Regions from separate parts of the Homo sapiens genome. Here region 1 is linked to region 2. Evidence: fine-mapped expression QTL. A gene starts in region 2. The other region holds a variant in brackets. All regions are shown on one strand. Distances are between the middles of the regions. Region 1 overlaps WDPCP (WD repeat containing planar cell polarity effector). Region 2 holds the start of OTX1 (orthodenticle homeobox 1).

Region 1 (2,905 bases), 270 kb before region 2:
GGATGTCCAGGGTTGGAAGAGTGACACCTTTTGTCCTTACTTATATGAATAGGAAGGATACAATTTCTGAGGCTCCCCATATTCTAGCTTCAGGAATAGCTTTTGTTAGGCCTGCTAGTCTGAGGAGGGATCCTAAAATTCCAGATAGTCCCCCCTACGATGGGGCTTTGGGCAAAAATTACGTCTTTCTGATTGGTGAGCCTGGGTGCCTACAGAAGGTAACAGAATCCCAAATTTATACTAGAAATCATTCTTATAGGAGAAACTAGAAAAGCACCAGAGACAGGGAGTGGTTTTTAGAAGCAGGACTAGCCTGGAGAAGAGAGGCAAGGGGAAGTTTGTCTGGCAGGCGTTAGGACCCAGGGGGCAATGGTCAGGGTAGATAGAATAGATGGGCAAGTCTCGCTTGGGCGACATGACTTTGAGAGTTCCACTCATGGCCACAGGGTCAACCAACTTGTTGTTGGGACCCCGGAGCTGAATGGCTTTCCTCTCTGTCGACCCTGGGCTCAGTCCAGAAGTACAGGAAAAGCGGAAGCTGGTTCCAGGCAAACCAACGCTACCAACTCTGAAGAGTCAGGGATTGTTAGAAAGGCCTTTCCCAGAAAGCCTGACACCTGTGTCTTTAGTCTGGCAGCTGCGCTAGTAGCTTTTAACTGGCCGACAGGTGCCTGGTATTTAGACCCCGAATTCTAAGGAAAAATAGGAAAGAATAGCAAGCGAAAGGGGTCCGATGGTACTCACCACTTGGCAATAGGCGATAGTCTCACTTCTTGGCGATAGGCGATGGTCCCATCTGGGTCGCCAAAATGTGTCTGGAATTGGTGGGTTCTTGGTCTCGGTGACTTCAAGAATGAAGCTGTGGACCCTTGCGGTGAGTGTTACAGTTCTTAAAGATGGTGTGTCCAGAGTTTGTTCCTTCTGATGTTCAGACATGTCCAGACTTTCTTCTTCTGGTGGGTTCATGGTCTCGCTGACTTCAGGAGTGAAGCCGCAGACCTTCGCAGTGAGTGCTACAGCTCTTAAAGGTGGCACATCTGGAGGTGTTTCTTCCTCCCAGTGGGTTCATGGTCTCACTGACTTCAGGAGTGAAGCTGCAGACCTTCACGGTGAGTGTTACAGCTCATAAAGGCAGCATGGACCCAAAGAGTGAGCAGCAGCAAGATTTATTGTGAAGAGCGAAAGAACAAAGCTTCCACAGCATGGAAGGGGACCCGAGCGGGTTGCCACTGCTGGCTCAGGTGGCCTGCTTTTATTCCCTTATCTGGGCCCACCCACATCCTGCTGATTGGTCCATTTTACAGAGTGCTGATTGGTCCATTTTACAGAGAGCTGATTGGTCCATTTTGACAGAGTGATGACTGGTGCATTTACAAACCTTTAGCTAGACACAAAGTGCTGATTGGTGCATTTACAATCCTTTAGCTAGACAGAAAAGTTCTCCAAGCCCCCTACCTGTTAGCTAGACACAGAGTGCTGATTGGTGCATTTACAATTCTTTAGCTAGACAGAAAAGTTCTCCAAGTCCCCACCCAACCCAGAAACCCAGCTGGCTTCACCTCTCAGTAATAGCTTCAGTGGTGTCTACTTCCCTCCAAATTAATCAAGTTGTATACATTAAATATGTACAGCTTTTTTTGTGTCAATAATACCTCAGTAAAGTGATA[T/C]GTAAAAAGAAGACAATAGAAATAAAGAAAAAGGAGCTCAAGAGAATTACATTAATTATACATACTTGAGTTTATAAAAATGTAAACATTCCTATATACAAAACAAATATGAAATCAAAACAATTTTTTAAAAAGTAAAGCAAAGTTGCCATATGGCAAAAAATACAAACTAAGCAGGGATTATTATATACTGTATAACAAGACAGAATTATGCCACAGATTATTAAACAGAACAAAGAAAGTCACTCTACAATGCTGTGGGCTACCTTTCATAATAAAAAAAAGTTATATCCGTGTACCAAATAAAATGATAGGAATCTTCGTAAAGCAGAAATTGTAGGAGATATAAGAAGAAACAGACAAAAGCAAACCAGTAGTTAATTTGCACGTAACATTTTCAGTCTAAGATGGGCCAGAATGACAAAAATGAGGAAATAAATCAGCAAAGTAACAATAAGGAGCTCTCATGTGGGTGGATACACACACACACACACACACACACACACACACACACACAGAGTGTATATATATGTCTATACACACAAAGTACATATCAAAATGTATATATATATATATATACTCTGATAATAGAGACACACTTCAGTACTTCAGACTGATATTGTTCTATAATATCAGTTACATGAATATAGAGATCATCTATTACTTTATTTGTTTAACTTTCCATTTGTTTATCTTGCTGATTGAGGTGTGCTAAAAGCAACTGTTAATATAATTGTCTTCTTTATTTCTGTCACCTTTTTTTTGTTTCATATATTTAAGACACTCACAGTCATGATTGTTGGGTCTTCCTGATGAATTGGTGTTTTTATCATTATGAAATGTCCCTCCTTTAATACTGTTTTTTAAAGTATATTATATCTGATAATTATTGCCATTCTAGCCTTTTCATATTTACATTTTTCTATTTATGTACTTTCAAACTATCTGTGTTTGTATATTTATAGTGGACTTCTTACAAACAGCATATATTTGGTTCTTGCTCTTTTATGACAGTCTTTGTCTTTTAATTGAAATGTTCAGTTCATTAACATTTAATGTAATTATGGATGTAGTTGCAATTCAGTCTGTCATTTTGTTTTTTGTTTGTACTAATTTTTACTAATTTTTGTTTCTTCACTCCTCTTTTCCTTCCTTCTTTGGATTATTTTAATATTTTCCAGATTTTTTATTTATTTGCTTTTTCAGTCATACCTACTTGCACTGTTTTTTTAGTGGTG
Region 2 (2,905 bases):
TAGACACTTGGTTCCTTTAAAGGTCTCCAGGGCTGCGCCCCTGCCCCAGATCCCGCAATCACCACTCCAGCTGACCTCTCTGTGCCCAGCCACTGAAAGATCGCTGACGCGAAATCCCACCGCACCTCAACCGCAGTAACGGGCCCAGGCTTCGCAGAGGGCCAGAGGACGCCGAAGGGGCCACTGTAGAGGGGGGCGACCCCAAGATGCGGCCTGAGGTCGGGAGCGCCTCAGCTGCGGCCAGCGTCCTTCGTTGCCAGCGCGCACCCGGCCTTCTCTCTGCCCAGTCTGGGCTGCGGACCGCAGGGTCCCAGCAGGGGGTGAAGGGTGACTGGCCTAGCACCTCAAAGGGTCTCGGGGATTTGTGAAGCCGGAGGGCAGCAAGTCGCGTGCTGCCATCCTTGTAGCTGAACCCGCGGCCCCAGGACACGGTCGAGAACAGAGAACTAGGCCTCAGCGGCGTAGCCCACGCAGACCCGAGCTGGGAGGTCGAAGCCTCGCCCCCGCCGCTGCCGGGAACCCGGGGTGCCACTCTCAGGGGTCAGGGAGGGGCGCTGGAAACTGGGCCTGGGGCCCTGGGGGGCCATCGCTACACCCCGCTTAGCGGGATCGCTGTGAAGCAAGCCAGGGACTCGGGCTAGGACGTTCAAGGAGAGAAGTTAGAGCTAAAGAAGCTCCCCCCAGCCCCGTTCCCGCCCCCGTCTTCTGGGACCCAAGACCTGGGCTGAGGGAGTCCAGCTTGTAGGAAGGGGACCGGAAGGGAAGCAGCCAGGGCTCTAGGGCCGAAGGAAAATGGGACTCAAAGCTGCGACGGCTTTGCGAAGCTGCAGCGTGAGTTTTCAAAGACTTTCTCCAAACTTAGCACTTCAGCTTGGTTACTTCGGAGGAGGCGGGGGAGGGGGCTGCGGGCCGCGACAGCGCCCCGGGGTCCTCGGCTCACCAAGAGGGGAGCCAGGCCGCTCCCACAGCCCCGACCACCTGCTGGGGACCGGGGAAGCCGGGATCCATTTGAGGAGGGGGAGATAAGGGTAACCAACGCGCTCCCGGAGTCCGGGGTGGCCCCGCGGCTTTCTCCTTACCTGCCCTCAGCTGCCGGGGCCGTTCACCATCTACCTGGATCTCTCACAGAGACCCGCCGGGCAGCCAACCTGCAAAACAGAGCAGCACTGGAATTACCCTGGCGGCTGGTCTAGGACCCCCAGGTTTCTTTCTTTTCCCAACTTCCTTCTTCCCACCTCTATCTTTTTTTTCAATGGCTTTGTGCGTGTCCTTCTGGGTTTCACTTTATTGCACAGACACTTTGTTTGCTAAGCCCCACACGTTCTCAGGACATTGCCTCGCCTGGGATCGCGCCGAGGGGCCGCAAGGGGGGGAATTCGAGGGGCAGAGTTGGGAGGTGGCTCGGCGTTGCCGCGGCACTCCCGGTGCAACGTGGAGGCAGTGGGGACTGGGAAGTCCTGCAGAGTCACTTTGCAAACTAAATAAATCAAGCGATTTACCTTGTCGGAGTGGCTTGTCTTGCTCGGTTGTTTAGGTGATTGGAAATGTAGCCTGATGAAGATTGATCACCTTTCTACTGCCCTCCCCGGGTATGTGAACGCGAGGCGAGTGCGTAACGGGGCTAGGCCGCCAATCGGGGGCCCCGCGCGGGCTGAGTGACAGGGAGCCGGGCAATGGCTGCGCGAGCCGGGGGTTACCTCCGCGCGCCCCCGCCCTCCCCCGCCCCCCACACCCCGCCCTCCCCGCCCTCCCGCCCCGCCCCGGTCGCGCGCTAACTCCGGGACTCGGCTGGCAAAAGCGGCGCAGAGCTAGGCGAGGAAGGCGAGCGGAGAGCCCGAGTCCTGGCCGCGGAGGGGGCCGTGGGTCTCCAGGCCTGCCCTGGGCGCCCCCGCCCTTCTCGCGCTCTCGGCGCTCCGGAGGGAGTGGCAGGGAGGAGGCGAGGTGCTGGAGAACCGGTTCCTTCGCTCTCCCGCGCGCTACAGGGCTCAGCCGCTCGGGTGTGGGCGCCAGGACCCGGGGGCGGCGGGCTGGAGGAGCCCGGGCCTCGGCCCCTCTCCCGGCGCCGCGGGCCCCAGCGTTTTCTTCCCCGGCGCCGCCACCTGAGACCGACGCCGCGGGCTGCTCGTGCCGGCGCAGGCTACTTTGCAGAGCGCGGGAGCAGCTCCGGGCGTGCAGATCTCTCCTCGGCCCCTCCGGACTCTCGCGCCTGGGAAGAGCACCCACTGGGAGGGCGCCGCCACTTACCTGCTTGCTCGTCGGCATCTCCCGGGGTTCCAGGTCCCCACCAAGGGTGTTTGCAAGTCTTAAGCGCTTCTACTGAAACGTTGGAGCCCAGCGTCCTCTTCCCCTCACACGTACACCCTACTTCTTAATTGAAACATTTTGATAGGAAAGTTTCTTTTTCGCTCTTTCTCTCTCTTTCTTAGACTGCCTCTAACAGGGACTTTTTGATGGAAAATGTGGCCACAGACCCCTGCCCTCAACTTTTTTCCACATGCTGCGTAAGGATCCTCCTTGAGGCGATTTCCCCGGATTGTTCGTACGGGCGAAGCCCATTTCCCACCCGAAAAAACTTCCCAAACACGTCTACCTGGGTGGACTTTTAAAAGTGCAAAAAAGAGTTTTCGTTCCAACTCTAAGCTAGGCGAATCTTTTAAATGGCACCTCCTCCTGAAAATTAGGCACTTTATTCCCTTTCGAGGAATTTCTACCCCTTGTTTCTAATCTCCCCCACTCCCCCACCCCGACAGGCGGGGTAAAAAGTTTGCACAGGATTAAGTGTGAGGGCAAGTCAAGGAGCCTCCAGGCGCATCGCAGTGGGGAGCACTCGCGCTGCCCGGGCTGCGGGGTCGGGCGCCGAGAGCGGACCGGGCGCTGGGTGAGGAGGAGGAGAACGAAGGGGGAG

Evidence for each region. PIP is the estimated chance that this variant, and not a neighbour inherited with it, causes the effect. A credible set is the group of variants that fine-mapping cannot tell apart.
Region 1: its variant is the best candidate, but not a certain one, in a credible set for the expression of OTX1 in whole blood (TOPMed, PIP 0.50).

Annotation. Positions count from the first base shown.
Region 1 is chr2:63,320,666-63,323,570 of GRCh38, reverse strand. All of the region lies in intron 12 of WDPCP (WD repeat containing planar cell polarity effector), which reads left to right. Among named protein-coding and RNA genes, the nearest start is that of WDPCP, 270 kb to the left of the region's middle. RefSeq lists an enhancer at 1-58. The variant T/C (reference allele first, on the strand shown) is at 1,668.
Region 2 is chr2:63,049,492-63,052,396 of GRCh38, reverse strand. It overlaps OTX1 (orthodenticle homeobox 1), which reads right to left and starts at 1,567. Exons shown (of 5, transcript NM_014562.4): 1 at 1,500-1,567; 2 at 1,080-1,148. RefSeq lists a silencer at 1,542-2,201 and enhancers at 2,318-2,905, 2,429-2,905.